Linked DNA regions of Homo sapiens: regions 1, 3, 4 and 5 are each linked to region 2. Evidence: fine-mapped QTL for protein levels in blood plasma. A gene starts in region 2. Each other region holds a variant in brackets. All regions are shown on one strand. Distances are between the middles of the regions.

Region 1 (6,413 bases), 41 kb before region 2:
TAAGACTGGAAAGGATGCAGAGGTTCCCTGCCTTAGGGATGACACTGGGGTCGTGTGATAGAAAGTGAAGGACAAACCTTAGGCTGGGGAGGGGCAGGGCAATGGGAGCGGTTGGGGGCGGGTCTAATTGCTTCTGAGAACACAAGAGCTCACCTAATCCTCCCAGCAAACCTGAAAGGCCAGTATTACCTCTGTTTTTCAGAGAAGTGAAGATAATGAAATCAAACAAAACAAAACAAACAGGCGGTGGGAGGAAGTGTGTAGGATTGAGGGCTGGCGGAGGACTAGAAACAGAGTGAGAGAGTCACTGCAGATGGCCCATTTTACACTAGATGTGTCTGCACCTCTGTCCGCACAGGAGAGAAGTGGATTCTGAAAGCTGGCGGTTCTGGTGTAAAGTTGCTAATAGTGTGCCCACTTATAAGGTAAAAGGCCCGAGGCTGCCTGAGGTCCACAACTGTTGGGTGGTAGAAGAGAGGCTGGAATTCAGGCTGGCCTGATCCCTGCACCAGTGGGGTCTCTTTTTCTATGTTGTTACTAAAGGTGTTACCAGGAGCAGCAGCTTCAGCGTCCCCAGAAAGTTTGTTAAAAATGAATAATCTCAGGCTTCTCCCCAGTCCTCTTGGCCAGAATCTTCATTTTAACAAGATCCCCAGGTGGGGAGCCCTGTCCTTCACCACCTCTATGTTATCCCTCAGGTTCTCTTCCACCCAGCACTGGAGTGTGTCCCTGTCCTCACCACTTTAGCCCTGGTCCCTCCTGCAGCATGCACAATTCCCACTGCTCCTTTGATTCTGTGCCAGGCACCTGAGATTCTTGGCTTCCCTTCTTCTCCTGTCTCCACTTCAGCTGGTAAGCCCCTCAAGGGTATGAGAGTGTGGGATATTGTACGGCCCACACAGAAAAAACAATCCCTTTCATCTCTCTATTGTTGCCTGTAGACCTCATCTCTTTCTGATCTTTACAGCAACACTTCCAAGCAGATATGGTTACCAAAGTAAATGAGAGACTTGGCCAAGTTTTCAGAGCTGGTTTAGCTGAAGTGAAGGGCTCCTCCCAGTGTTTCCTTCCTTACCCCTCCCCCACAAAGGAAACCCCACTGCCAGTTTGGAGGTACTGAAACATGAGTATGGTACTTTTTTTTTTCAGAGAGCATGAAGTTATTGCAGGAATCAATCTGCTGGGATTCCCTCTGGTGGGCACATAGCCTGGTGCTTCTGGGAGAGTGGCCAGTCATGAGGCAGGCTTTCTTCCATGGCCGGGATCCCCGCTTTGGGAAAGTTAGCTCAAGCATGTGAGGCACTGAGCTCGGTAAGCTACAACTCCTGTTGTTCCCTGGGCATCAGTTTCCCCATAGGGAAAATGAAGATGTTCTGCTGGAGTTCATTGTTTCAATCTGTGGTCCGAACACCTCTGGAAGTGGGACTTTGAATCTAAACCAGCTTTGAGTTAAAGCAGAAAAGAAAAAGCAAATGAATCCATCTTGCCCTTGATTTCAAAAATAGCAGCCAGCTTGTTCCCCATTTAACATAGTAGGCTTCCTTATTAAAGTTTCTCTAAATATATATACATATATAGCCTAAAATCATTTTGAAAACCATGCGCTAAATATTCTCTGGGGTCTCTTCCAGCTAGTGCAGACTAGAATTGAGGCCTGATTCTTGTGACTTGGAATTTATTAAATGGGGCACTAGAAAAATAATTGTTGAGTGCCATCCTGTCATTTACTGAGTGACATGTCCTGATCTCTATGCTATTCTCTTTGGCCACTGTAGGGAAAACAGACCAGGGGGAATGAGTAGGACAGAAACCTCAATATCCATTCAAGACATTTTCTGTAGCAACAGAGCTGTGATTCTTAGCTGGACTCCTAGATGCCCAGAAATAGCCTGCATTTTCCAGCCTCCCAGGTAGCTAGATGTGGCTGTTAGCCAAAATTCTGACCATTGGCAGACAAGTGGAAGTGGTGGGCACAATTTGTGGGCCAGGCAGTTAAAGGAAGTGGGCATGCCTTCCTCTTCTCCAGGGCTTCCTCCCTACTGGATGGAAAGCAGACATGGGGGTGAGTAATACTGGATCCTATGAGCAGGGGAAATACCCTAAGGAGGGCGGAACCATGAAAACAGGGTGCCTGACACACAAGTCC[T/C]GGACTGCTTCCACACGGGTTGCTACATGAGTGAGAAACAAATTCCTGTCTTGTTTAAGCCACTGTTTATTTGGGTCTCTGTTAGAGTGACTAAGCTATATGTGTGCACTCACAGGCACACACAGACCATTTAATTCTGTGGACAAAAGTGGCAGCAGAGGAACCAGTCAGAAGCTTTTGAAATAGTGCAGGCAAAGATGATGGTGGCTTGAAAAAAGGTAGTAGCTTTGGAGGTGATGAGAAGCTCAGGTTCTGAAAATATTGCGAAGAGACAAGTGATGAAGTCTGACGGAATGAATGTGAGGAATTAGAAAAAGAGGAGAGTTAATTCCAAGATTTAGTAGAATGTGTTGCCAGATGGGGAAGATAGGGAAAGAACAGAGATAGGGTTGAAATCAGGAGTTCATTTTGGACACTAAGTTTGAAATGCTGAATAGACATCTAAGCGTTGCTTGGGCATTTAGGGTTCAGGCATCAAGATTTTGGAGAAGAAGAAATTAAATATAAAAACAAACACTACTTTAATGGCCATTAGACTCAATTCTACTCTCAGACATCTTAGGCAAAAATGAGGGGAATGAAACAGAGTTCCACATGAAAATCTAATTAAACTGCTGCCTTGTGATTTTCCATAATTGTGATAAGGCCTTTAATTAGCTGGCTCTACAGAGCACCGGGCACTGGGAAACCCACAAGGCAAATTACTGCTGTGCGCATCTTGGGACGCATGTCCTCACATCTGAACAGCTCAGAGTCCTCAAGCACATAATTACCCTCTGAGAAAGCTTTCCAGGATGAATGGCATTTGGGAAAGTTGGGAAGTTGGAGAACTGGATTTTCAATCCAAAAGATACAATGGAAAGAGTGATCAGAAGATCTGGCTTGGAGTCCTGGGCTCTTTACATAAGGACCTGATGATATGGGACAAGTCATCTAATAACCATCCATCCATCCACCCACCTGCCTCTCATCTGAATAGACTATCTCCAGGGTAGTTTCCTTTTTCTTGAATCTCTAGCATCTCTACACCATATGGTGCTTATTGCCCAAGTGTGATAACAGAGGAAACCACCTGGAACATAGAAATCTACAGAGCACAAAAGAAGGAAGGTAAGAAATAAAGGGGCATCTATCAGACAGGAATGGGTAACAGAAAGCTCCTTTTGTACTGGGGTTTAGGGCAGTGGAGACAGAGGGAGAAGAAAGCCCAACCTGAGGGCTGAGCTCTCTGAAGCAGGAGGTTTTATGAGTGAGATGTGGGGATAACAGGGCAGAATCATCTGTTTCTTATTTCTTAGGATCTAGCTCTGAAAAAAATCCCAACTCTCAGGTTCAGCATGGCATCATGTCCAACACAGTACAGACATAGTAAGGAGGTGCTTAGAGGCAACAGCGTAGAGGCTGCACACTAGTTTGGGCAGAGAAACAGAACATTCCTGCAAGCTCCAGTCCTGGGAACAGGAGCTAGAAGCCACAGACAGCAGGAACCTCACAACTAGAGGGTAAAGTAGGGTGAAGTCTTCAGCATCAGGGGCTATGGATAGATGGATGACACCCAGAAGACCACGGGTATTATGAATCTCTCAGTAGACATCCACTCAGAGTGCCCAGGGACCATGTTAAACCCGCCAACCCTCTGGAATTCACTGAGAACTAAGGGAACTCAGACCAGGGGTTCCACCTTCACCTGTACTCTCTTCCCCACCACCTTCTTGACCATGGAGATGCAGAAATACACACTTGTACCCAGATACAATCTTGGCAAAGAAGAAAAGGAGGAGTCTTTTGAATGAGGGGAGAAATGGTATTGATATTTTTTCAATAATCAACGCCAACATGACTGAATTCAGACTGAATTCAGTTGCAGACTGAATTCAGTTGCAAAGCAAACTGAATTGCCTTTAATTGGCAAATTTAAGGATTATTTTTCACCATCAGGAGGAATGGAGATGCAAGAGCAAAGTAGATCAGTTAATGACAAAGAAAATTGTGTTATTTTGCACATCAGAGTTTGCACATTTTAAATTCTGCTATAATTCTTTCACTTATTCATTCTTCCATTCATTTCATGAACATTTACAGAGCACTTACTTTCTTCCAGGCACTGGAGAGAGGGGGAGATGCATAAGATTTTTCTGCCCTAGAGAAGCTTAGAGATTGGGTTAGGAGGCACAAGATAAGAAGTGTTGCAATAGAGGTGCCAGTCCAGGTGGCTGAGAGAGCCCAGAGGAACAACAAAGGGCCCTCATCCCAGCCTGGGCGGACGGTCAGGGAAGACTTGCTGGAGGAGTTGGTGCCTACCCTGAGTCTTTAGGATGAGTAGGAGTTAACCAAGTGGAAAAAGACAGTCAGAAGTGGTGGCATTTATTCCTGTGTTTATTCATTCATTAATTCACTTAACTAGTATTTGTTAGATACCTACTATAAATACAGAAATAAATAAATAACCTATAAATAAATACAGAAATTGATATAAGCAATGGGGATACAGCAGTGAACAAAAGAAAAATCTCTGCCTTTGTGCATTTTGTATTCTAGAATGAGGAGAGAGATAGTAAGCAAACAACAGAAGAAATATGTAATATAACATCAGATAGGGAAAAGTGAAATGAAGTTGATGAAGGAGATACAGGAGATAATAGGGGGAGGTACGAAAGGGGCCATAGTTGTTATGCATAGAGTGGAGAGGGGAGGTGTTGATGAGGCAAGATATAAGTGGAAATTCATTTGAAATGAGAGACTAACACATTTGACCATCTAGAGGAACAGCATTCAAGATAAAGGGAACAGCAAATGTAAAATCTCTGAGTCTGGAATTTTTTTGGCAAGTTCAAGAAACAGCTAGGATGTTGGAGCACAGAGAATTTTTAGGATTATTCTTACAATAATCTGTATGATACTGTAATGGTGGATACATGTCATTTTACATTTGTCCAAGCCTATAGAAAATACAACACCAAGAGTAAACCCCAATGTAAATTGTGGACTTTGGGTGATAGATGTGTCAATATAGATTCATCAATTGTAACAAATATACCACTCTGACAGGGGATATTGGTAATAGGGGAGGTTGCGCATGTGTTAGGGCAGGGAGTATATGGGCAATTTCAATACTTTCCTCCCAATTTTACTGTGAACCTAAAACTGCCCTAAAAAAAATTAAGTCAAAAGAAAAGAGAAGGCCGAGCACGGTGGCTCATGCCTATAATCCCAGCACTTTGGGAGGCCCAAGTGGGCTAATCACTTGATGTCAGGAGTTCAAGACCAGCCTGGCCAACATGGCAAAACCACATCTCTACTAAAAATACAAAAAATGTAGCCGGGCGTGGTAGTGCGCACCTGTGGTCCCAGCTACTCGGGAGACTGAGGCAGGAGAATCGCTTGAACCCTGGAGGCAGAGGTTGCAGTTAGCCGAGATCATGCTACTGCACTCCAGCCTGGGTGACAAAGTCAGAATCTGTCAAAAAAAAAAAAAAAAAAAAAAAAAAAGAAAGAAAGAAAGAAAAGAAAAAAGAGAAGGAATATCTAGGAGGTCAATGGCTACAGCAGGGAGGGAGGGAAAGAGAGGTAGGGAATGAGGTTGACGTGGTATCCAGTTTAGACAGAGCCTTGCAAGCCATGATTAGGAGTCTGGATTTTATTGTGAGTCTGAGGATGCCTTGAGGCCATTGAGGTGGCAAGGCATGAGATAATTGGAAGCATTGAGAAACGTACAAATAGTCCGATATGATTTTCCTGTGAAGTTCACACTAGAGATCATAGAAAAATCAGTAGAAAAGCAAGCTGGAGGCTGAACATGAAAGGCCTAGCCAAGAAAGAGCTCTAAACTGAGAAAGTTGAGATTTATTCTGAGTGCAATGGAAGTAACTGAAAGATTTTAAGGAAACAAGTATTCAATTGACATGAGCAGATTGGGGTTTTGGAAAAATGATTTGTGGCCATTTTGGAAGACGGATTAGAAGAATAAGGAAATAGGATATGAGAGAGGAAGCAAAATAAGGGCATGGGAAACCAATCAGGCAAGATGGTGTCCTCATCCAGGTGACTGTTACAGGATGGACTGGTCCGAATGCCTGCTGCACAGTAATAGTCCAATGCACTGAGATAGCAGGGTTTGCAGTAAAGAGCTTAATGATCACAGGGCACCCACAATGAGATGGAAAGACACTCTCAAATCCTCCCCAGGAAGCTCTTGGCTGGGGTTTTTAAGGAGATCCTGGAGGGTGAGGGGCTGGAAAATTGGGGTCATTGATTGGTTAGATTGAGG
Region 2 (6,418 bases):
ACAATTCCTCATGTTTGTGGATAAGAAATTGTCCCTCACGCGGATCACGAGGTCAGGAGATCGAGACCACCCTGGCTAACACGGTGAAACCCCGTCTCTACTAAAAATACCAAAAAAATTAGCCGGGCGTGGTGGCAGGCGCTTGTAGTCCCAGCTACTCAGGAGGCTGAAGCAGGAGAATGGCATGAACCCAGGAGGTGGAGCTTGCAGTGAGTTGAGATCATGCCACTGCACTCCAGCCTGGGTGACAGAGCGAGACTCCGTCTCAAAAAAAAAAAAAAAAAAAAAAAAAAAAAAAAAAATTCGCCGGGCGTGGTGGCTCATGCCTGTAATCCCAGCACTTTGGGAGGCTGAGGTGGGCGGATCACCTGAGGTCAGGAGTTTGAGACCAGCCTGACCAACATGGAGAAACCCTGTCTCTACTAAAAATACAAAAAAAAATTAGCCAGGCTTGATGGCTCATGCCTGTAATCCCAGCTACTCGGGAGGCTGACGCGGGAGACTTGCTTGAACCTGGGCGGCGGAGGTTGTGGTGAGCCGAGATCACGCCATTGCACTCCAGCCTGGGCAACAAGGGCAAAACTCCGTCTCAAAAAAAAAAAAGAAAAAAGAAATTGTCCCTCACATGTCTCTGCTTCCTCTGTCTGTCAAGGCAGAATATATTTCAATCTTCCTGCCTCAGGAATTGCGTGAAAATTAATGGGACAGAGGCCCAGCTGGCTTTCATCTGCTAAACAACACCCTTGCACGACTGGTGGTGCACATTAAATGCTGAACATATAAAATGTGCTTTGATGGAGGACCTGGGAATAATTATAGCTTGCTAATTATTGTTAATTTTACCACAGCTTTGAAACTCTAGACTTTCTCAATGACTCAAAAAGAGATTGCAACCCCTGTATGCCATGAAACTAGCCACACAGTGGCAGACAAGCAATTTCTCACAGGCTCCATTCTTTCATTATTTACATGGTTCAGCTACTTACGTGGGATACAGGAAAAGAAAAGCAACGATTTGCTGTGTTAGAATCAAATTGTACAAAAAACTCTTTACAGTCTTGCTGGCTCTTTAAGAATTTGTTCCTGTTTGTCTCTTTATAGCCAGTGCACAAATAAATATTATGTGCGTGTGTGCCTGTGTGTGTGCGCTTGTGTGAGGTACAGAAAATTAGTGTTTAACAGAACTTTTAACCCTCTGGACACCAGGATACCTGTGTTTTACCCTTGATATGGTGAGTAACAGAACTGCTTCCCTAACTTCCCTTCAGATTCTGTGTCACTTCGTGTCCACAAACACTTTATTTAAGGTCTCATCACTCCTAGGCAGGGTGCCAAAGACCCCTCTCAGAAATATGAGGAAGTTGATAGCAGTGTGACTTCAGGTCTTTAAGCCTCATCAGTACCACCTATAAAACGGGTCTGATAGTCCCTACCTGTCAGGACTGGTGTTAGGATGAGATAATGTTTGTGAACTGTAAACTATATAAACGTGTGCTACTGTGAGAACTGGACAAAGAAGAGAGGGAGTGAGAGAAATTAAGGGAGGGCTGGGGCTGGGAAAGAACGAAAAGGGAGTCGCGTATAGAGGAGAGCGCGACAGTCGCGAGCCACACTTTGCAATGAAACTCTTTAGACTTTCTGCCGGGAGAGCGGCCCAGACGCGCCAGGTCTGTAGCAGGAGGCCGCGCCGAGGGCGGGTCCCCAGAAGCCTACAGGTGAGTATCGGTTCTCCCCTTCCCGGCTTTCGGTCCGGAGGAGGCGGGAGCAGCTTCCCTGTTCTGATCCTATCGCGGGCGGCGCAGGGCCGGCTTGGCCTTCCGTGGGACGGGGAGGGGGGCGGGATGTGTCACCCAAATACCAGTGGGGACGGTCGGTGGTGGAACCAGCCGGGCAGGTCGGGTAGAGTATAAGAGCCGGAGGGAGCGGCCGGGCGGCAGACGCCTGCAGACCATCCCAGACGCCGGAGCCCGAGCCCCGACGAGTCCCCGCGCCTCATCCGCCCGCGTCCGGTCCGCGTTCCTCCGCCCCACCATGGCTCGGGGCCCCGGCCTCGCGCCGCCACCGCTGCGGCTGCCGCTGCTGCTGCTGGTGCTGGCGGCGGTGACCGGCCACACGGCCGCGCAGGACAACTGCACGTGTCCCACCAACAAGATGACCGTGTGCAGCCCCGACGGCCCCGGCGGCCGCTGCCAGTGCCGCGCGCTGGGCTCGGGCATGGCGGTCGACTGCTCCACGCTGACCTCCAAGTGTCTGCTGCTCAAGGCGCGCATGAGCGCCCCCAAGAACGCCCGCACGCTGGTGCGGCCGAGTGAGCACGCGCTCGTGGACAACGATGGCCTCTACGACCCCGACTGCGACCCCGAGGGCCGCTTCAAGGCGCGCCAGTGCAACCAGACGTCGGTGTGCTGGTGCGTGAACTCGGTGGGCGTGCGCCGCACGGACAAGGGCGACCTGAGCCTACGCTGCGATGAGCTGGTGCGCACCCACCACATCCTCATTGACCTGCGCCACCGCCCCACCGCCGGCGCCTTCAACCACTCAGACCTGGACGCCGAGCTGAGGCGGCTCTTCCGCGAGCGCTATCGGCTGCACCCCAAGTTCGTGGCGGCCGTGCACTACGAGCAGCCCACCATCCAGATCGAGCTGCGGCAGAACACGTCTCAGAAGGCCGCCGGTGACGTGGATATCGGCGATGCCGCCTACTACTTCGAGAGGGACATCAAGGGCGAGTCTCTATTCCAGGGCCGCGGCGGCCTGGACTTGCGCGTGCGCGGAGAACCCCTGCAGGTGGAGCGCACGCTCATCTATTACCTGGACGAGATTCCCCCGAAGTTCTCCATGAAGCGCCTCACCGCCGGCCTCATCGCCGTCATCGTGGTGGTCGTGGTGGCCCTCGTCGCCGGCATGGCCGTCCTGGTGATCACCAACCGGAGAAAGTCGGGGAAGTACAAGAAGGTGGAGATCAAGGAACTGGGGGAGTTGAGAAAGGAACCGAGCTTGTAGGTACCCGGCGGGGCAGGGGATGGGGTGGGGTACCGGATTTCGGTATCGTCCCAGACCCAAGTGAGTCACGCTTCCTGATTCCTCGGCGCAAAGGAGACGTTTATCCTTTCAAATTCCTGCCTTCCCCCTCCCTTTTGCGCACACACCAGGTTTAATAGATCCTGGCCTCAGGGTCTCCTTTCTTTCTCACTTCTGTCTTGAAGGAAGCATTTCTAAAATGTATCCCCTTTCGGTCCAACAACAGGAAACCTGACTGGGGCAGTGAAGGAAGGGATGGCATAGCGTTATGTGTAAAAAACAAGTATCTGTATGACAACCCGGGATCGTTTGCAAGTAACTGAATCCATTGCGACATTGTGAAGGCTTAAATGAGTTTAGATGGGAAATAGCGTTGTTATCGCCTTGGGTTTAAATTATTTGATGAGTTCCACTTGTATCATGGCCTACCCGAGGAGAAGAGGAGTTTGTTAACTGGGCCTATGTAGTAGCCTCATTTACCATCGTTTGTATTACTGACCACATATGCTTGTCACTGGGAAAGAAGCCTGTTTCAGCTGCCTGAACGCAGTTTGGATGTCTTTGAGGACAGACATTGCCCGGAAACTCAGTCTATTTATTCTTCAGCTTGCCCTTACTGCCACTGATATTGGTAATGTTCTTTTTTGTAAAATGTTTGTACATATGTTGTCTTTGATAATGTTGCTGTAATTTTTTAAAATAAAACACGAATTTAATAAAATATGGGAAAGGCACAAACCAGAAGTCGGCATTTGTGAAAAGTCCCTCCAGATTTCTATCACATTGGTCTCTAATTTCCCAAGACTTGTATTTTTTTTTTATTTCAAATTATAACACTTTTTTTTCCCCCAGAAGTGGGTGTTTCATGTTGCTACTCTGGTGTGTCCTAAGATATCCTAACTGGCCAGTGTAAATGCTATTCTTTCTAAATAAGATTATTTGGAAACTTCCTTCAAACTGCAGGAGGGTGAGCTTGAGGGAGGAAGCTAAAACTAGCTGCTTTTATGAAAAAGAGTGCCAGTCTTTGGTCATCTCTAAACAAGGCTTATCACCAATGGAGACAGAAAACTCTAGTTCAAGAGCTGTACCTCCTTTGAATCCCAGCCCTACTTTGAAATAAGTGGTACTATTTCCATTTAGCCTTTGAGCAAATCACTTAATCTCAAAGCGTTGTGGCTCTAAGATTAAACGACTTTCCCACATAATTAGAGCCAGTCTGCAGTGGGCCCTACACTTTTGCTGGGTGTGCACAGGCTGTTTTCCTAAGACTTTTACTTATTACATATATTTTTTGAGATGGAGTCTTGCTCTGTTGTCCAGGCTGCAGGGCAGTGGAGTGAGCTCAGCTCACTGCAACCTCCACCTCCTGGGTTCAAGCGATTCTCCTACCTCAGCCTCCTGAGTAACTGGGATTACAGGTGCCCACCACTATGCCCAACTAATTTTTGCATTTTTAGTAGAGATGGAGTTTCACCATGTTGGCCAGGCTGGTCTTGAACTCCTGCCCTCAGGTGATCCACCTGCGTCGGCCTCCCAAAGTGCTGGTATCATAGGTGTGAGCCACTGCACCCAGGGATTTTTACTATTAATGTGCTTTAAAGATATGTTTTACCTATTAGCTGTAAAAACTAGCCACTTGTCCCTCTTACACTTATCTCTTACTTTTCAGTCATTCACGTTCATTTATGTGTGTGACTGTGGGGTACCCCACAAGTAAACAAGTTACTACAGTAACTGAGAAACTGATACAACACTAGGTGTGTACAAAGGAAGGGAGTGGTTGGTATATCACATATTCAGCAACAGCTAAGCTAGATCCAGGACTGCAGTTTCTTCCCCTGGAATCCATTTCATGCCCCTCCTCCCATCCTGTTTCTACAGTCTATGAGGACCTCCCAAGACTGAAACACCAGTAAGAATTGGGGAGAGATAGCTCTCAGCTACTGGCTTCTCAACTTAGGGCTGTGGCTGCTATGCGCTGGTGGAGTGGATACTGTGGGATTGCCAGAGATCTCAAAGTCTGCTGCCACTCATCAAGGGAGAAACTCCTCCAGGCTCCAAACTTCCTTCCAGGGTCAAATAAGACTTACCAAGGGGAGAGGGTGGATGTGAGCAGGCTCTCCTACAGTAGGAAGGGTGGCCCAAGTACCTGAAGTTAGAACTGGCTCTCTAACAATGAGAGTGAGACTCCCCACTCTAGGTCTCACTGGGTGCTTTCCACTTCTGAGTCACTGAAGTGCTTTGACGGAAGTGACCTTGGTGATCACCTGTGACCTAACCCCGCATTTCACACATGAAAAGAGCAAGTGAATTCTCAAGATTAATGTTTCTGTAGCACAGCTGGAACCAGAAAGCCTCATTGTTTCAAGAGTCACTTTTAAAAACTCACTTGTCTGCCTGGAAAATAAAGGATCCAGTGGGCAACTGAACAAAGCAGACTCCCTGAAAAAGCCCCTTACTCCATCAGAATGTTGCTTCTGGATGATATTTAGGTTTCTGCATTAATTCAGGACTGTGACTTCTTGCACTTTATAGCATTTATAATTTGCAAAGCGTTTTCACACATATAATCTTCTTTGAGCCATTGACTTACTGGAAGTAACCCAAATGTTGACAAACCTGAGGTCAAATCTTATTCCTTTGGGTCAGGAAGTCACTTACCTCCCCTGTTTCCTCATTAGTTAAATGAAACTATAAATCCCTCTCTCGCTATTATGAATATTAAATGAAGTAATTGATATGAGCGTCTGAAACAATCTGGTGCTTAGTGAAAGTTTCATGTACTTTAAATTGTTTAGATTACATCCATGTCACATGTCAGCAAACTGAGATTTGAAAGACATTGAGTAAATTCATGAACACACACCCTGCATATACCAAATATGGGGCTTGGGACTTTTGCCTTGTGTAGCTAAGATTTTTACTGTTAATGTGCTTTAAAGATGTGTTTTACCTATTAGCTGTAAAAACTAGCCACATGTCTCCATTATACTTATTTCCTCCTGTTCCTGCTGGGTAGCCAGCAGGTTAAGATGCCTTTTTTTACTCACTTCTTCCAAGGAAGAGCCCCCTCATGCTTCTGTTCTGAAAATCAGCTTTCCTCTGCTGGGGTCGGGTCTTAAGAACCAGCTATCTTCAGGGATTGAGCAGCTGCCTCCAAGATTCCACCCACCTCCCCACCAAAAACAAACAAACAAACAAACAAAAAAATACCTTACAGTTCACTGGTTCACTGCCGAGAGCTCAGACCTGGGGCTGCCCTTGGAAGGAATGTGAGGAGCAGGTGTGGCTTGCCCAGCAAGTTGCAGCCTGCCTTCTGAGCCTCCTGAGGACACTTGACTGATTTCCTTGTGTAGGTCACCAGGGCTTTATCCATTCTGTTTCTTTTATTGAAGCA
Region 3 (6,484 bases), 32 kb before region 2:
TATTCCCTTGCAAGAAAGGATGCCTTGCCTAGCTGTGAGAAGGTGGTGGGCTGACAGCTTCCACTTGTTCTTTCTGGTCTCCTTCAGTTCTTCCCAGTGCAGCCCCAGCCAATGACTGAGCAAGGTTTAGGCACTTCCACCCAAAGCAGGATTCCTGTAATGGGCTCTTTCCTCTAGAGCTCCCCTTTAGGCAGAGAGGCTTTTTCTACTTGATCTACTTCACGGTTTAATGGCTTCCTCTGACCAGTCCTGCTTCTAAGAAAAGAAGTTTCTTGTGAAAGTAGAAGAAATTCCTTTCACAAGTTTACCCAAATATGCCTGTTTGTCCTAACTGCATCTCCGCATCTGCTTCTCAGTAGACAGAACTAGCAGTGTGATGTGGTTTGGCTCTGTGTCCCCACCCAAATCTCATCTTGAATTGTAATCCCCACAATCCCCATGTGTCAAGGGAGGGACAAGGTGGGAGGTGATTGAATCATGGGGGCACTTCCCCCCATGCTGTTCTCATGATAATGAGTGAGTTCTCAAGAGATCTGATGGTTTTATAGGGCAGTTTTCCCTGCTCTTGCTCACTCTCTCTCATCTGCTTCCATGTAGGACATGCCTCTTTCCCTTCCACCATGATTGTAAGTTTCCTGAGGCCTCCCCAGCCATGCAGAACTGTGAGTCAATAAAACCTCTTTTCTTCATAAATTACCCAGTCTTGAATATGTCTTTATGGCAGTGTGAAGATGAACTAATAGACAGCATCAGAACAGGATCCAATGCCTAGGTAATTTAAATGACTTTTCTATGCACCCCAACACCCATACCTCCTTTCTGTCTGTATTTTCACACCATGCTGGCATTTTTGGATTTGGAGTCCGATTTGCCTGTCTGTGATAAAATATATATAACACAGAATTTGCTATTGTAATCATTTTGAAGTGTACAATTCAGTGGTGTTAATTATAGACACCCCTCAGTATACAAGTGGGATTAATTCTAGAACTCCTCTGCCCCCAACATATATCCAAATCCTGTATACTCAAGTCCTGTAGTCAAGCCCTGTGGAACCTATATACATGAAAAGTTAGCCCTCTTTACACTTGGGTTCACATTCTGCAAATACTGTGTTTTCAATCTGCATTTGGTTGGAAAAAATCTTTCTGTAAATAGACCCATGCAATTCAAACCCATGTTGCTTAAGGGTCAGTTGTACATTCACACTGTTGTGCTACCATCCTCATGATCTGCTTCCAAAACCTTTTCATCACCTCAAATAGAAACTCTGTAATCATTAAATAATAATTGGAGTCTGATTTTTAGATACTAAAAGTAAACTGAGCTCTATCAGGACAGTAACGCTATTTTACTTATCTCCATCTATAGTATCTTAGTAGCGCCTTGCAGTTACTAGGCAAACAAGATATTGCTTATTAAACTGAAGAATTAAAAGAAAATTCCTACTGAGATAACCTGAAAAGACTTCCTGGAAGAGGTGATATTCTAATAAGATTTCAGTAGGTGGGGAGGAGGGAAGGGCATCCTATGCCAAGGGAAGAGTAGGGAGAGGGCAAACTGTTGATTGTCAACCCAAAGTCAATGTTTCCTTGCCAGAACTGCAGTTTTGTTTAGGATAGCGAAGTGCACAACTAACACATATATACACATTTTCTAGCCTCTCATTCAGATTGAGGTAGCCATTTGACTGAGTTGTGACCAATGAGGTGTAAGCAACGGACTAGTGGGGATTTCTCAGTCTGGTTGATATACCTGATACAGGTAGAGACATTTCCTTTCTTCTTCTTCCTTCTACTTTTTGTCTGGAATATAGATGTCATGGCTGAAGCAATACTAGCTGACTCACAGGCATTAGGAAGGTGCCTGGAAAAATGTGGAGTCAGTGGTCCTGACACTTTTAAGCCATGGGACTAGAAGTTCTAGAGTTCTCTCTCTCTCGCTCTCTCTCTCTCTGTGTGTGTGTGTGTGTGTACACATACATGTGTGCATATGTGTAATGCCTAACTGTAAAATGTGGTTGAGTTTTTACTTGTTTGCAGTTAATGCAAGTCCTAACTGATACAATGGTTAAAGGCAGGGAGACTTGTATCTGAGACTGAGATATCAGAGAAAGTTTGTTAAGAAAGGCTATCCAACAAAGTAAACAAGATAAAGTACCTACTGAACAATTACTATGGCCTAGAATGCCAGCTTCTATGTATTTGATGTGCTCTGGCTGTTACAGAAGATAGAGTAAAGGAAATCCCATTGAGGGTGACTTGGAAAAAGCCCCTATAGAGGTAAATAAAATAATGAAGAAAATAAATGAAGTCTTTGGGCCTGGTCAGGTACTTTTTTTCCCCTCCCTGGGAAAATAGAATTTGCCAGTGCTGAAGCCAGGAAATTTAGGGCTGGAAACCAGATTCCAGATTGGAAGTCAGAGATGCAGAAAAGAATGAAGAGACACAGAAAAGAATGCAGAAAAGAAAAAGATTAATTTGGCCAGGCACAGTGACTCATGCCTGCAATCCCAGCACTTTGGGAGGCCTAGGTGGGAGTATCACTTGAGCCCAAGAGTTTGAGGTAATACAGGGCATGGGCAATACAGGGAGACACTATTTCTGCAAAAAATAAAAAAAAATTAGCCAAACATGGTAGAATGCACCTCTGGTCCAAGCTACTTGTGGAGGTTGAGGTGAGAAGTGGGAAGATCGCTTGAACCCAGGAGATCAAGGCTGCATTGAGTCATGAGTATGCCACTGCACTCCAGCCTGGATGGCAGAGTGAGACCCTGTCAAAAAAAAAAAAAAAAAGAAGAGGAAAGAAAGAAAGAAAAGAAAGAAATATTAATTTATGGGGAATATTTTTCACTGATTGTATAAATGAACATTGGAGTGAAACATTGAAATGAAAACAACAATAATAATATGTAGAATAAAAGTACATGATGACAAGAGTATATATGTGAGGGAGCAACGGTGGAAAGCATTCTGAAGTCCCTGCATCTAGTCGTATCTGTCACATCTTAATGAACCCACAGTAAACCAAAAAGAAAACCTTGCAAGAAGCTTTTTGGTTGATGAGGGAAAGTTCTTCTTTATTGAAAAACCCAGCTAATAGGTGCAGAATGAAGGGTAGAATTAGAAAATCACTATTTTGCAAATCTTTAATGAAATAGTGGATGTAGTCAGCAATCATCAGTGACTGCAAAAAAATCATTAGGTGAAAATTGATGAGTAACTTTATAATACCATCATTACAGCTGAAACACCTGAACCCACAGATCAACCTCAACAGCACTCAAAATTGGATAATCAGGACAAGAACGGGGGAAGATGATGAATAGGAGACAGGGCTAATGTGCAGCTCCCACATGGATGGACAGAACAGTGTGTGCAGACTCACACCATGATCTTTTGCTCCAAGAACTACCACAGGAACGTACCGGGAAAACCAAAGGAATTCACAGATTTTTTGAAAGAAGTTGCACACTGCTGCAAATTCCATGAAACAGGCAAAAAAAAACTGTGAGTTCCCAAAGTGTGAGAGGAGGCAAACCTACCTCCAAACACATATCCCCACTGGGGAATCTGAAAATCCAGATCACATGAGAAGGATTTAACTTTACCTAGAGATGAAACAGATTTAGGGGGTTGCATGAAATATAAAAGTGGAAGTGGCAGTGGGAAGTACCTTGCACATATTCCCAGTATCCAGCTTGAGCCCAGGGAAGCCATCCCTGACTATATCTCACTGGGGCCCTTGGGAAAGGCAGTCAGTGGAATTGGGAAGGTGTTGTGGGATGAAGAAAGGTCCCAACTGAAATTGGTAGTGGACTGGGCACAAATTTCTTGAGTGGAGTCTGGGGGATGATCAGGTGCTGCTGGTATGAGTGAGCACAGGACCTACCACCAATGGAGTGAGCAGATGGGGAGGGATGAGGTCTGGAAGCTGTGCTGATTCTCAGCTGGGTAGCTCATGGCCTGGGGCAAGGTCTGAGCAGGGCACTGTAGTGGAAGACCAATCTCTCCAAGTGCATGGGAGCTGGATGAAGCCTCTCACTACCAGCTATCCACCACTTCCCTGGACACAGCAGAGGCAGCCATAATCCCCTCTGGAACGTAGTCCCATTGGCCTGAGAACCACCACCCACCCACCACAGTGGCCTTGGGTAGTAGCAAGCCCTACCCAAGGAGAATCTGAGTGCAGACCTGTCTAACCCTGTCCCCACCTGATGGTATTTCCCTATTCACCTTGGTAGCTGAACACAAAACATAATCATTCTTTGGAGCTTTATGGCCCCACCCATTACCTGAGAAACCAAAATACTTACCCTGGCCATCTTAGGGCAAGTTTAGAGCTCCCTACCACTATCATAGCTGGTGTTCTCTTGGAAGTGCCACCTATTGGCTGGAGGCCAACCA[AC/C]TCAGGTTATTACAGCAACTCATGACAGAATAACCCTGATCCCAGAAAGGAGAAGACAACACCTAATTCCACTGCCTGCAACATCTTGGGTAACCAGAGGTTTTGAATGTGTCCATGTGACAACTTCACTGCTAATAGAACCAGAATTCAAGAAAGCGACGATATAGGAGTTAAGAAGAAATTATTTAGGCAGAAAGCGAGGGTAAGAGAGTCTTTGGTAAGGTTTTCCTTTTAATGAAAAGCAGATCCAAAATAATCTTCTTTTCTAACAAAGAGCAGCCTGTAAAATGGAGCTGCAGACATAGACAAGCAAGCTGGAAGCTTGCATGAGTGAATGCTGGCAGCTGTGCCATTAGGAAAAGGCTACCTGAGGGCTAGGCATGTCCAACATGGTGGCTCCATCTTCCCCTTTCCTTATCAACCATGTCTACAGCAAGGAACAGACAACGTGGCGCCATTTGCATAATAAAGTAAAGACCCCATTAGCATAATAAGATTAGGGTGGGGGCCAGCTTCCCCATGCGCTATGTAAATAAATGTGCGCACCTGGTCCAACCAATCTTTGGCCCCTGTGTAAATCAGACACTGCCTCCTCAAGCCTGTCTATAAAATCCGGTGCACTGATGCAGGCCTGAAGTCCCACTCAGGCACCCCTCTGTCTCATAGGAGAGAGAGCTGTTTTCCTTTCGCTTTTTTTTGCCTATTAAACCTATGCTCTTAACCTCACTCCACATGTGTTCATGTCCTTGATTTCCTTGGCATGAGGCAACAAACCTTGTGTATTTACCCCAGACAACAATGCCACTTCAGCAAGTGCACTAAACATATCTACAACCAAGGATTCTCACAGAGTCTTATTTCACTCCCCTGCCACCTCCACTGAACAGGTGCTGGTATCCATGGCTGTAGACCTGAAGTCAGATCACATCACAGGACTTTTTTCAGACCACCAGCTCAGAGCCTCATAGCCCCACATGGTGGCCAGACCCAGAAGAGCAAAAACAATCCCTAGATCCATGTGGTGGCTAGACCCAGAAGAGCAATAACAGACGCAGAAGAGCAATAACAATCACTGCAGTCCAGCTCTCAGAAAGCTCCATCCCTTGGGGGAGGAAGAGAGCACCATATCAAGGGATCATCCCATGGGAGAAGAGAATCTGAACAGCAGACCTTGAGTTTCAGACCTCTCCACTGAAATAGTCTCCCCAAATGAGAAGGAATCAGAAAAGTAATTCTGATTATATGACAAAACAGGTTTCTATAACACCCCCAAAAGGTCACACCAGCTCCCTAGCAATGGATCCAAACCAAGAAGAAATCTCTGAATTGCCAGATACAGAATTCAGAAGATTGATTATTGAGCTACTCAAGGAGATACCAGAGAAAGGTGAAAACCAACTTAAAGAAATTTTTAAAAATACAGGATGTGGATGAAAAATTCTCCAGAGAAACAGATATCATAAAGAAAAAAACAATTACAAACTTCTGGAAATGAAAGACACACTTAGAGAAATACAGAATGCACTGGAAAGTTTCAACAATAGACTAGAACAAGTAGAAAAAAGAACTTCAGAGTTCAAAGACAAGGCTTTCAAATTAACCCAATCAAACAAAGACAAAGAAAAAAGAATTAAAAAAATCAACAAAGCCTTCAAGAAATTTGGGATTATGTTAAGCAGCCAAACCAAAGAATAATTGCTGTTCCTGATGAAGAAGAGAAATCTAAAAGTTTGTAAAACTTATTTGAAGGAAAAATTAAGGAAAACTTTCCTGGCCTTGCTAGAGATCTAGACATTCAAATACAAGAAGCTCAAAGAACACCTGGGAAATTCATCACAAAAAGATTATCACCCAGGCACATAATCATCAGGTTATCTAAAGTCAAGGTGAAGGGAAGAATCTTAAGGGCTGTGAGACAAAAGCATCAGATAATCTAGAAAGGAAAACCTATCAGATTAATAGCAGACTTCTCAGCAGAAACCTTACAAGTCAGAAGCAACTGGGGTCCCATCTTTAGCCTCCTGAAACAAAATAATTGTCAACCAAGATTTTTGTATTCAGCAAAAGTAAGCTTCAT
Region 4 (6,484 bases), 85 kb before region 2:
CTGTGTCTTATTTGTCTTTTTTCTCAAGTAGCACCTAATAAATTGCTTTGCATCTAGGAGGTGGTCAACACTATGGGTTTTTACTGAATTAATAATATTGGTATTAGCTTTTAGTCTGGAATGTCCATTTTGAGCATAGCACATAATACATATTATTCTTTAGCTCAGTACAGTTTTATAAAAAGAATCGCAATTAACTTGTTCTCTTTAAATCATTTTTAAACCATCTTTAAATCATCATCTGACTTGATTTTATAATCTCACAGACTGCTAGGTTTTGGTAATGAACCTCAATTCTGATGCTATCCAGTACAATAGCAGTACGTGTGACTTTAAATGTAAGTTGATTAGAATTACATGAAATTTAAAATTTAGTTCATGGAATTCTACTCTGGCCAAAATGAAGTAAAAAGAACTTGTCTGAAACTACCAAAAAACTGGACAAAATATGTAAAATAATGGTATTTAAACACAACATTTAGCAGCAAAGGAATACGATTGCTAAGAGATGGGAAACAAATGAAAAGAGCCCCACATTACCCTAGCTTACTGCTTAAGAGGGTTTTCAGATATGGCACAAGAAGGAGAAACCCACCCAGAGCCAGGCCGACTCAATTAAGGTGATGGAGATAAGGAGACCAAGACAGCTGAGTTTGTGAGACAGAGCCCCAAGAGAACAGAAAGCAGAATGGAGAGTGAACTCTGGAGATTTGTAGAAGAGTATCCCTGGAGTATTTAGCAAAGTACAGATCAGCACATGTATGTGAATAAACTAGCCCAGATGGGAAAGAACTACTTGAAAGCATTAGAGGGAACTATCCATGATGCTCCCATGAGCTACCATTGGACAGAGCTGTCTTGTAAATGACTTGTCCATGCTTAACACTGCGTATTAGATCTTAATCCTAGGTCTTTTGCTTTGCCCTTAGAAATCCTCTGGTGCAAGAATTAAGGTTTTCTAGAAGCCATGGGATACCTTGTGCTACAGTACTTTTAACTCAGGTCATATCTTTACAATATCTCTAATGGTTTAATGTTTTCTTTACTTGTGACAGGCAGGAAATATATTTAGTGATCAGTTTTCTTCTGATATTTTAGTGGATAAAAATATTCTCTATAAAAGAAACTTATTGACTTTAAAAGTACCTTTTTTAACTTAAAAAATATTCTTAAAAATACCAAATAGACCTGTATATAATTTGTGTGTATGTTTTCATGTTTTTGCATCAGCATAGATTGAAAATGCATTATTTACCTCTCTTTATTTTCATCTTCAACTTTCATTGAGAGTAGGAGTCACTCTACTGGATTCAGATCCCAGCTCTGACATTTATTGCTTATTTTACCTTGGGCAGTCTACTCCCTCATTCTCCTTTGCTACATCTGTAAAATGAGAAAAAATTACTACCTTGCTTACAGTAGGTATATGGTTGTAAGGTGTGTCAGTAATATATGTAAAGTGTTTAGCAAATAATAGGTTTTCAGTGGGTGGTTATCATTATATAGATGGTATCCATGTTTAGTAAGTAATCAAAGCATGTCAAGTAAATGACTGTTATCACCATAAGGAGTTTGCTTAATACCCCGTGTACTATAGTGTGTCACTCTTCTTAAGTTTTTGGAGAAGAGGAAAATTGAGCAATTAAATAAAAAAGATCAGTCATCATCATCAGGCTTGCTGTCCCCTTTCCTTCCAAACACCTGAAAAAATGCCTTTTTAGAGCATATTGACATTTAAGCTATGCTTTATTTCATTGTGAGGAAATAATTGTATTTTTCCCCTTTTTTTTTTCCATGCCTTCTGATTTGCTGGCATTTTATTTATTCCTTACCATGGTAGAAACCCAGTTGAGGCAGTATTATGTATAAGTTAAAAGCAGAACTCTCGAGCCTGACTGCCTGGGTTCAAATCCTGCCAATGCCTTTTATATCTGATCATGAGCAGGTTAACCTTTCTATGACGTAGTGTCCTCATCGAAAAAAAAAAAAGGGGGGGGTGAATAATGGCAGCTACTTCATTTAAGTGATTTCACATTAAGTTTTAGGTGGCACATAGTATGCATTATAAGTGTTACTATGATGGTATCAGCCTTTGCTAGTGAATCAGCTGAGCTTTTAAAAAAATGCTATAGATGCATTTGCATGGGGGTCTTGAAGGATATGTGAAAAATTGCTAAGATAACTCATCGTTTGGTATTTTTTCCTTTCTAGATGAATATATGATGTTCACCCCTTGGGCTTCTTTCTTTCCTCCAGAGTTTAGTATAACAACTTTGACTCAAAGCAGTTGCTGCCTCCCCAGAGTTCATCCTATCCTCTTGTCTAGTCTTAGATTAGCTCTTCTAGGGAGGTGGAATGAGTTTGGGCTCAGAAGTGAGGCAAACCTGCTGGGTTTTAACATCTGTGTCCTGCCACTTTGCTAGCCTAAATATGATTTTTAATGTATCTCAGCTTCAGTTTTCTCACCTGTTAAAAAAAAAACAATAACTTACAGCATTGTTGTAAGCTTAATAACCTGTATATATATATATTTTTAATTATCACTAGGATGGCAATATGTCTTAGTTTGTCTAGGATAATCCCACTTTAAACCTGCGGTTCAGGCATAATTATTAATAGTACCTTCTTTCATTCAAAAAGTCTCTTGGTTTAGGTGATAAATTACGTGATCATCCCATCATAGTGCCATGCGTAGAATTGTCATGTAAATGGCACTTTTACTCATTATTATTATTAATAGCTTGGCATTAATATGCTTAGTGGACCAAGTACAATCGGGCAATAAATATTTAATGAATGCCCACTATGTTTAAAGTGCTGTTCAGCTGATCTGCAAAGCTATGGCTGTAAAAACACCGAAGGGAATTTTAAGTATAATTAAAAGGAGATTGGAGAGTTAAGAAATAGTTGATGACAATGTGCTTCTTTATGCTTTTCTAGGCTTACCTTACAAATTTGAAGTACAGCAGATGTTAGAAGAACCTCAGTGGGGATTAGTATTTGAAAAGACAAGATGGATAATAGAAAAATACAGGCTCTCCCATAGGTATGTACTGTGGTTTGAGATGGTTGCACATCTGCAGTGTTGCTCATTAAATTATGTTTCAGAGAAAACCCAAGTTAAATATAAAATTGTGATGTATGGCATCCGTGATAGTTTATTATGAAACTGATTAGTTTATAGTATTCGTTTCACCAGTTTGTTTTCATATTTCTTCCTACAGCAGCGTCCCCATGGATAAAATCTTTCGCCGGGATTCTGACCTGACTTGTTTGCAGAAAGTAAGCTGTCTTCATTTTAATTGGTTCCATTGTTCACAGATTCTGAAGCTATTCATCTCAATGTGTTTTCCCATGATGCCTAATACTTTGTGGATAATTTTCTGTATATTTCTTTTATTACTTTTTCCTTTGGAAAATTAATTTCTAGGAGATAATTAGTAACGTTTTTTGTTGCCCAAGCTTGCACATAGAAAAAATTCTATTTTAGAATAAATTTGTCAGTGTTGGCTGATTTTAGCAGATTATTATTATACACAATGGAGAACATTTTTCTTATTTTATTAAATTTGAAAGTGCCATGTTTCCATTTTAGCCTTAACAATTGGTCATTTTTAAGAATGATGGTATAAATCTAACAATTAAATTTAAATAGTCATTTTATTTAACTTTCTAATAGGAAATAAGAGTTTTGAATTCTGTCAGTTCA[C/T]GTCTAGGTTTTGCTTCTGTAATGATTGAAGGCTAGTAGATCTGCAACATTTGTCTTTTTAAATAGCAATTGGGGATAGAAAATTTAAACATTAAGTTTCTTTTTAATATGTTTTACTCCTTTCTGTTATATCCAGTTTTTTGTGTGTTGTTGAAAAAGTATGTGCACATTTCCAAGGAAATAGACTCCAGCTAGCATCCTCATTTTGAAATGCAGAATCCTATGTTTTTATGTACCTAGATTTTTGTGTGTGTGTATACTCAGGATTATTTTGCTTTGTAAGTGTAACTACAAATGGAGAAAAGTCGCAAATACGTCCGAAGTAGAAAGCATCACATAAACAATCTCAGGTTTGTCTCCTTATGTAAAATCATAAAAGTACTAAGCTGAGTGTTCCTCAGCAGCAATTTCCTACATTCCAGCTCTGTGACTATTAAACACAAGTTAATCTTCAACCATTTTTAAGGAGAGTGTTTCTCATTTGAGCATTAGGAAATGTGAGGTCTGGAAAGGGACGAAATAGTGATAGTAATGCAAACCCTCATACTTTTTCTGTATTTAAATATAAAACTTTTCTTTTCAACTAGCTTTTGGAGTGTATGAGGAAGACTCTGAGCAAAGTGACCAATTGCTTTATGGCTGAAGAATTCTTGACTGAAATAGAAAATTTGTTCCTTTCCAATTATAAAAGCAACCAAGAGAATGGAGTAACCGAAGAGAACTGTACAAAGGAATTGTTAATGTGATTATTTTAAAGTTAAGACATTTTAATCTTGACACAGTAGATCTTACTTTCAAAGTTATAAACTTGAAGTGATTGTAGTTAACATTGGCACAGCTTTGGTATTTTTTCTCTATTTCACAAAATCCAAACTTTGCCACATAAATCATGTGAAAAGGAAGAGATACAAATTTGTTTTCATATAGTGATTATCAGAGTGTTCTGCAAACCAGGGTCCACCACGGTGTTCTAGTCCTTTACTGAGCAATGCTGTAGGCTGTGAAACTAAGCAACCTGGTCGGCTTTACTGTTGTGTTCAGCTTGGGATTTGGACTATGTCTCTAAGTCATTTCTTCCCTGAACTAGTCATTTATGTTCCATTGTGGTATCTCCTATTTCATTTAAAAGCACTTCCATTCTTTCCATATATTCTGCTGAGATTTGTTTATGGCTATAAATGAGATATGGATGGGTGGTCACTGAGATAATTAATATGGTTTAGAACTACTGATTAATAAATCTAACAGGAGACCAGGAGAGGCATGACAAGAAAATCTTAAAAACAGGAAAAACCCAAAGGAGAGAACTAAATTACCAGTTTCTAATCATAGATACTATCTTCCATTTCATTGTATAGCAGTAGTATCATAAGATATGCCATTTTCTCAGCTATCTGAAAATTTTTAACCAATTTTACACACATAAAATAATTAGCTTCAATTGTGAGTCCACTTACATTAGTAGGTGTGATAAAACCTCATTTAACTGGAACATAGGTAATCATAACTCAAACTTTTTTTCTACTGCCTACTACTAGGAGAAAGAGGCAAATGATAATAAAGCTGGAATAAATCAGAGATTTAATTTTTAAAACAAGCCTTTCAGGACATGTTACATATTCAGCCCAGTTTCATATGCTTTCTGAATCTATAATGGAGGTCAGTGAACTTTTTTAATGTAAAGGGCCAGTTTGTAAATAATTTTGGCTTTTCAGGCCACATATGATGTCTATGAGACATTCTTCTTTGTGTGTGTGTGTGTGTGTGTGTGTGTGTGTGTGTGTTTTACAGCCCTTTAAAATGATAAAAACCATTGTTAACTCACAGGCCTCATAAAACATAGGCTGTTGGCTATTATTCTCCAACCCTTGATCTAGAGAATTTTAAACATTAGAATTTTGTTTTACATTTGTTAAGCTTTACGTCATCTTCAAATGACACCAAAACTCAGAATTATGATCTGCATTTAAGCCAATTTTAAAATAAAATAAGCAGTCAATGCTGCCTCATTTATTGAAATTCAGTAGATTTTAGTTTATTTCTTAGTAGTCAGAGAATTGATTTATAGCTATTCACCAAACATTCTTACTAACGTTTCCTTATATCTAAATCAGATTGATTCTATATTTTGCTTTGTTTGTAATCAATAGCCAATGAAGAATAAGGAGTATTGGAAGAAGCAGTGAGTCAGCTTTAGGTGACCTGGTTCTTGTCTCAACTTTGTGATTTGGGGAGATACAGTTTACTTTCCCTGAGCCTTAATTCTTGTGTAACTGAAGTCTAACTTAACTTCTTAATGTCCTTCCAGAACTAAAATTTTATTGTTCATTCTAATCGTTGGACTACTCTTGTGAAGTTTATATTTTGAGTTAATACAGTTTCCAAATTAACATACATTTAAAAAAAAAAGGGTAGTATTTTTCCATTTCTCTGTGTGCACTTAGGATAAACAGTGAAGTATAGCTTATAAAACAATTAGTTTGAGGGCTGAGAGTGTAAGAGGAACTATACCAAAAGTCAGGAAACCTGAGCTCTTACCCTAACTCTGTTACCAACTTTGCTGTGTGACCTTAATCAAAACACATAACCTGGACCCCATGCTCCTCACCAGTAAATCAAGGGCCTGAATTTTATGGCTTAGTATTCCCTTCCAAGCTCCGAAGTTGCGTGATTCTGTGAAAGGCAGTGATTGATTCCTTTGTACTCATCTTCCTTTTGACCTGTTTCCTCATGATATATTGGGGAACAAATACTAAAAAGTGTTTTATACTAGCT
Region 5 (6,484 bases), 25 kb before region 2:
AAAAAGATATTCCACACAAATGGAAACCAAAAGTGGGCAGGAGTACCTATTCTTATATCAGACAAAACAGACTTTAAAGCAACAACAGTAAAAATAGATAAAGAGTGACATTATGTAATGATAAAAGAACTAGTCCAAGAGGAAAATGTCACAATCATAAATATATATGCACCTAATACTGGAGCTCCCAAATTTATAAAACAATTACTGCTAGACCTAAGAAATGAGATAGACAGCAACACAGTAATAGTGGGGGAATTCAATACTCCACTGGCAGCACTAGATAGGTCATCAAGACAGAAGGTCAATAAAGAAACAATGGGTTTAAACTGTACTCTAGAATAAATGGACTTAAAAGATATTTATAGAACATTCTACCCAACAACTGCAGAATATACATTCTTTTCTTCAGCACTGTAACATTCTCACAGATAGACCATATGATAGGCCACAAAACAAGTCTTAATAAATTTAAGAAAATCAAAATTATATCAAGTATCCTCTCAGACCACAGTGGAATAAAACCAGAAATTAACTCCAAAAGGAATCCTCAAAACTATACAAATACATGGAAATTAAATAATCTGCTCTTGAATGATCTTTGGATAAACAATAAAATCAAGATAAAAATTAAACAAATATGGAGGCCGAGGTGGGCAGATCATGAGGTCAGGAGATCGAGACCATCCTGGCTAACACAGTGAAACTCTGTCTCTGCTAAAAAATACAAAAAATTAGCCGGGTGTGGAGGTGGGCGCCTGTAGTCCCAGCTACTCTGGAGGCTGAGGCAGGAGAATGGCGTGAACCTGGGAAGCGGAGCTTGCAGTGAGCTAAGATTGTGCCACTGCACTCCAGCCTGGGCGACAGAGCAAGACTGTCTCAAAAAAATAAATAAATAAATAAAAATAAATAAAAAATAACCATTATTTAAGCTGAACGATAATAGTGACACAACTTATCAAAACCTCTGGGATATAGCAAAAGCAGTGCTAAGAGGAAAGTCCATAGCATTAAATGCCTACATCAAAAAGTCTGAAAGAGCACAAATCGACAATCTAAGGTCATACCTCAAGGAATTAGAGAAACAAGACCAAACCAAACCCAAGCCCAGCAGAAGAAAAAAATAAAGATCAGAGCAAAACTAAATGAAATTGAAGCAAACAAGCAAACAGAAATACAAAGGATAAATGAAACAAAAAGCTGGTTCTTTAAAAAAATAAACAAAATTGATAGACCTAGTGAGATTAACCAAGAAAAGAAGAGAGAAGATCCAAGTAAGCTCAATTAGAAAGGAAACAGGAGATATTACAACTAATACCACAGAAGTACTAGGTCATTCCAGGCTACTATGAACACCTTTACATACACAAACTAGAAAATGTAGAGGAGATGGATAAATTCCTGGAAATATACAATGCTCCCAGATTAAATCAGGAGAAACAGAAACTCTGAACAGACCAATAACAAGTAGCAAGGTTGAAACAGTAATTTAAAAATTGCCAACAAAAAAAGTCTAGGATCAGATGGATTCACAGCTGAATTCCATCAGACATTCAAAGAATTGATACCAATCTTACTATTCCAAAAGATAAAGAGGAAATCCTCCCTAAATCATTTGATGAAGCCAGTATCACCATAATTCCAAAATCAGGAAAGGACATAACAAAAAAAGAAAACTACAGACCAATATCCCTGATAAACATAGATGCAAAAATCCTTAACAAAGTACTAACTAACTGAATCTAGCAGCATGTCAAAAAAAAAAAAAAATACACCATGATCAAGTGGGTTTCATACCAGGGATGCAGGGATAGTTTAACACATGCAAGTCAATAAATGTGATATATCACATAAACAGAACTAAAAACAAATACCATATGATCATTTCAATAGA[T/C]GCTGAAAAAGCATTTGACAAAAGCTAGCATCCCTTTATGATTAAAGCCCTCAGCAAAACTGGCATAGAAGGGACTTATCTCAAAATAATAAAAGCCATCTGTGAAAAACCCACAGCCAACATTATACTGAATGGGGACAAATGGAAAACTGAAACTGAAAACTGGAACAAGACAAGATTGCCCACTTTTACCACTTCTATTCAGCATAGTACTGAAAGTCCTAGCCAGAGCAATCAGACAAGAGAAAGAAATAAAGGGCATCCAGATTGGTAAAGAGGAAGTCAAACTGTCGCTGTTCACCGATGATATGATGTATACCTGGAAAACCCTAAAAACTCGTCCAAAATGCTCCTAGATCTGATATATGAATTTAGTAAAGTTTCAGGATACAAAATCAATGTACACAAATCAGTAGCACTGCTATACACCAACAACAACCAAGCTCAGGAACAAATAAAGAACTAATTCCCTTTTACAACAGCTGCAAAAAATAAAATAAAACACTTAGGAATATACCTAACCAAGTAGGTGAAAGATCTCTACAAGGAAATCTACAAAACGCTGCTGAAAGAAATCATCAATGACACAAGTAAATGGAAACACGTCCCATGCTCATGGATGGGAAGAATCAATATTGTGAAAATGACCATACTGACAAAAGCAATCTACAGATTCAATACAATTCCCATCAAAGTACCATCATCATTCTTCACAGAGCCAGGAAAAACAATCTGAAATTTCATATGGAACCAAAAGAAAGACCCGACATAGCCAAAGCAAGACTGAGCAAAAGGAAAAAATCTGGAGGCATCACATTGCTGGACTTCAAGCTATACTACAAGGCTGTGGTTACCAAAACAGTATGGTACTGGTATAAAAATAGGTACATAGACCATTGGAACAGAATACAGAATGCAGAAATAAAGCCAAATGCTTACAGCCAACTGATCTTTGACAAAGCAAACAGAAACATAAAATGGGGAAAGGGCACCCTATTCAACAAATGGTGCTGGGATAATTGGCAAGCCACATGCAGAATAATAAAACTGGATCCTCATTTCTCACCTTATACAAAAATCAGCTCAAGATGGATTGAAGACTTAAATCTAAGACCTGAAACCATAAAAATGATGAAGATGGCATTGGTAAAACTCTTCCGGATGTTGGCTTGGCAAAGAGATCATGACCAAGAATGCAAAAGCAAATGAAACAAAAACAAAAATAAATAGATAGGATCTAATTAAACTAAAAAGCTTCTGCACAGCAAAAGAAATAATCAGCAAACAGACAACCCACTGAATGGGGGAAAATATTTGCAAACTATACATCCAACAAAGGACTAATATCCAGAATCTACAGGGAACTCAAACAAATCAGCAAGAAAGAAAAACAAAAACAAATAACCCCATCAAAAAGTGGACAAATGACATGAATAGACAATTCTCAAAAGAAAATATACAAATGGCCAACAAACAGGAAAAAATGATCAACATCTTTAATTATCAGGGAAATGAAAATTAAAACCACAATGAGATATCACCTTACTCCTGCAAGAATGGCCATAATTAAAAAATCAAAAAATAATAGATGTTGGCATGAATGTGGTGAAAAGGGAACACTTTTACAATGCTGGTGGGAATGTAAACTAGTATTACTGCTATGGAAAACCGTGTGGAGATTCCTTAAAGAACTAAAAGTAGAACTACCATTGGATCCAGTAATCTCACTACTGGGTATCTACTCAGAGGAAAAGAAGTCATTATATGAAAAAGACACTTGCACACACGTTTGTAGCAGCACAATTTGCAATTGTAAATACATGGAACCAGCCTAAATGCCCATCAACCAATGGGTGGACAAAGAAAATGTGGTATATATATACACTGTGGAATATTATGCAGCCATAAAAAGGAATGAAATAATGGCATTTGCAGCAACCTGGATGGAATTGGAGACCATTATTCTAAGTGAAGTAAAACAGGAATGGAAAACCAAATATCATATGTTCTCACTTATAAGTGGGAGCTAAGCTATGAGGACACAAAGGCATAGGAATGATGGGGACTTTGGGGACTCGGGAGGAGGAGCATGAGGGATAAGACTACACATTGGGTACAGTGTACACTGCTTGGATGATAGGTGCACCAAAATCTCAGAAATTACCACTAAAGCACTTATCCATGTAACAAAAAACCACCTGTTCCCCAAAAACTATTGAAATAAAAATAAAATAAAAAAAAAAAAATTAAAAAAGAAAGCTGACAACAAGCTTTCTGCCAGAAAAAAAAAAAAATTAGACAATCAGATTTTATGTGGGTTCTAATGAGATGCTATAGAGGTATAAAGAAGCCGCCTATGAAATATTGTTGTTCCCACCCCACCTGCCAAAAACACCTTGAATCTGGATCTCTTCAAGTCTCTAGGTCTACCTACCAGTTGACAGGAAATCTAGAGGATAAAGAAATGTATTGAATGATATGACAAAGAGACAATTAGCCAAACCCAAAATGTAGGAGAATTCTACATGACAAATGACCCAGTGTATCCATCAAGGTCCCAGCAAGAAACAGATGGCACATTCAAATTAGGTAATTTGAGAAGGGCTTAGTAAAAGGACTACTTAGAAAGATTTGGGTGGGATATAGGGAAACCACAAGGCAAAAAGAGATAGCACAGGATCCCAGAGCTAATTACAACTCACGAGACATTGCCATTTTAGGGAAAAAGGAACAGGGGAGGAATAGTTACTGTAACAGAGGATACATAGTGAGAGAGAGAGGGAAGGAAGGAAAAGAGAGAACAAAAGCCATGGAGAGGGCCTCCTTATGGTGGCTGTGACCTTGGGTTGAAGGACACAACAAGGTTGCCAAGAAATATTGCACACTGATGGTTAGAATGGTGGTCACTCTCGGCTGGGCACGTGGCCTACGCCTGTAATCCCAGCACTTTGGGAGGCCAAGGCAGGTAGATCATCTGAGGTCAGGAGTTCAAGACCAGCCTGGCCAACATGGCGAAACCTTGTCTCTCCTAAAAATACAGAAAAAGAAAAAAGAATTAGCCAGGTATGGTGGCAGGCACCTGTAATCCCAGCTACTTGGGAGGCTGAGGCAGGAGAATCACTCAAACCTAGGAGGCAGAGGTTGCAGTGAGCCAAGATTGCGCCATTGCACTCCAGCCTGGGCAACAAGAGCGAAACTCCATCTTAAAAAAAAGAAAGAAAAGAATGGTGGTCACACTCTATTTGGAATAAGATAGAAGATGAAGTAAGAAAGATCTAATTTTTTACACAAATAAACTTGAGAATCTCTTAACTACCTGTTTTCAACATGGAATTGAGTATTGATACATGAGGCATATTCTGAATCCAGGACTAACACAATAGATTCCAACTGGTGTTCTTGTGTTCAGTCTCTGCCTTCCATCTCTTCTCCACTTAGTGGGCAGTGTGTTTGAAAAGTACAAATCTGGTTCTGGGGTCAAACAGCTTGAAAACCTTCAGTTGCCCTTTCAATAGAGATTTTTAGCCTGCTTAATAAGACACTCCATGATTTAGCACTTTCTTGTCCCTCCAGTCCTTCTTCCCTTAAATGGCTCTGTCCCAGACGCATGGGGGCATCCTTGGAATGCTACCAGCTTTCTTCCTAGTGGACATTCACATATGTGGTTCCTATGGTCTGTAAGTTGTTTAGGGATCAGTTATAGGAATGAGAAGCGATTCTAGTTAGATTAAGTAGTAAGGGATTTATTTATTGCAGGATATTACATGGTTCCAGAAGCAATGGCAAGCCGGGAAAATGAGACTCTAAGACAACCCCAAGAGCTGCAGGCAGATCTGGCCACCTCGGGTGCTTTTGTCTCTTCTGCCATCAGGGAGCTGGCAGCCAAATTGGGAAGCTGCCCCTGCAGCAGCTCTCTGCCAGGATCAAAAACCCACCAAAACCAGCAAACAGCCACAACCTAGAAACTGAAATACCCAGGAAGCCACCAAAATCAAGAAGTGCCTTGTGGCGGCCAGACTTCCGTCCATGAGGAGCTTACCAACCAGCAGAAGCCACAGAAGCAGGGAGGTGAGGCCACTGCAGCACCCCCATCTTCCAAATCCCGCAGGAATGCACTGACTGATGGAGCTAATTCACATTCAGAACACGTACTACAAAGAAACCCAGAAAATGTGGCTTTTAGCTTTCCAGACTAACACGGTAGAAGAAGGTTGGAGTAGATATTGAGTGCCAGTGGACGACATCTGCATAGCCTGGAACACTCTGTTCTACCTCTTCCCCTGGCCCAGTACTACTCATCCTTAGGTCTTGGGTTACACTCCACTTGCTTAAGAAGATGTTCCCTGCCTCACAGCCTGTCTAGATGCCCCACCTCATCCCCAGTACCTGCTGAGAATACCCACCATATTGCCCTGTGATTATACTCACCACCCTCTAAGAACTGGTCAGCCCTCCCTGCTAAACTCCATCATGGCAGGAAGTGTATCTATCTTGTACACCCCAGTATTCTCAATAGCTTGCCCAGTGCCTGGAATGTGACAATCTCTTCATGTGAAATGAAAGCATGTGTTGAATGTATAAATAAATGAA

Alleles and levels. Alleles are on the strand shown, and positions count from the first base shown. The strength of an association depends on the size of the effect and on how common the allele is.
For the plasma level of the protein whose gene starts at base 1,936 in region 2, T is the low allele of the variant in region 1 and C is the other (moderate association).
In carriers of allele C in region 3, the plasma level of the protein whose gene starts at base 1,936 in region 2 tends to be lower than with AC alone (strong association).
For the plasma level of the protein whose gene starts at base 1,936 in region 2, C is the high allele of the variant in region 4 and T is the other (moderate association).
For the plasma level of the protein whose gene starts at base 1,936 in region 2, allele C in region 5 goes with a higher level than allele T (moderate association).

What was found. PIP is the chance, under the fine-mapping model, that this variant and not a neighbour inherited with it causes the effect. The UK Biobank Pharma Proteomics Project read protein levels with antibody pairs (Olink). The fine-mapping took linkage between variants from a reference panel, not from the people measured, so its PIPs are less certain.
Region 1: its variant is fine-mapped to the plasma level of the TACSTD2 protein (UK Biobank, PIP above 0.99).
Region 3: its variant is fine-mapped to the plasma level of the TACSTD2 protein (UK Biobank, PIP above 0.99).
Region 4: its variant is fine-mapped to the plasma level of the TACSTD2 protein (UK Biobank, PIP 0.97).
Region 5: its variant is fine-mapped to the plasma level of the TACSTD2 protein (UK Biobank, PIP above 0.99).

What each region holds. Positions count from the first base shown.
Region 1 is chr1:58,614,201-58,620,613 of GRCh38, reverse strand. No RefSeq gene overlaps it. Among named protein-coding and RNA genes, the nearest start is that of TACSTD2, 40 kb to the right of the region's middle. The variant T/C (reference allele first, on the strand shown) is at 2,147.
Region 2 is chr1:58,572,770-58,579,187 of GRCh38, reverse strand. It overlaps TACSTD2 (tumor associated calcium signal transducer 2), which reads left to right and starts at 1,936. Exons shown (of 1, transcript NM_002353.3): 1 at 1,936-3,755. The coding sequence starts at 2,032. The coding sequence ends at 3,003. RefSeq lists enhancers at 1,778-2,472, 2,473-3,168, 5,019-5,108, 5,259-5,458.
Region 3 is chr1:58,604,506-58,610,989 of GRCh38, reverse strand. No RefSeq gene overlaps it. Among named protein-coding and RNA genes, the nearest start is that of TACSTD2, 30 kb to the right of the region's middle. The variant AC/C (reference allele first, on the strand shown) is at 4,407.
Region 4 is chr1:58,657,968-58,664,451 of GRCh38, reverse strand. MYSM1 (Myb like, SWIRM and MPN domains 1) reads left to right here. Exons shown (of 20, transcript NM_001085487.3): 18 at 2,941-3,046; 19 at 3,225-3,282; 20 at 4,297-6,484. The coding sequence ends at 4,455. Among named protein-coding and RNA genes, the nearest start is that of MYSM1, 39 kb to the left of the region's middle. The variant C/T (reference allele first, on the strand shown) is at 3,710.
Region 5 is chr1:58,597,630-58,604,113 of GRCh38, reverse strand. No RefSeq gene overlaps it. Among named protein-coding and RNA genes, the nearest start is that of TACSTD2, 24 kb to the right of the region's middle. The variant T/C (reference allele first, on the strand shown) is at 1,895.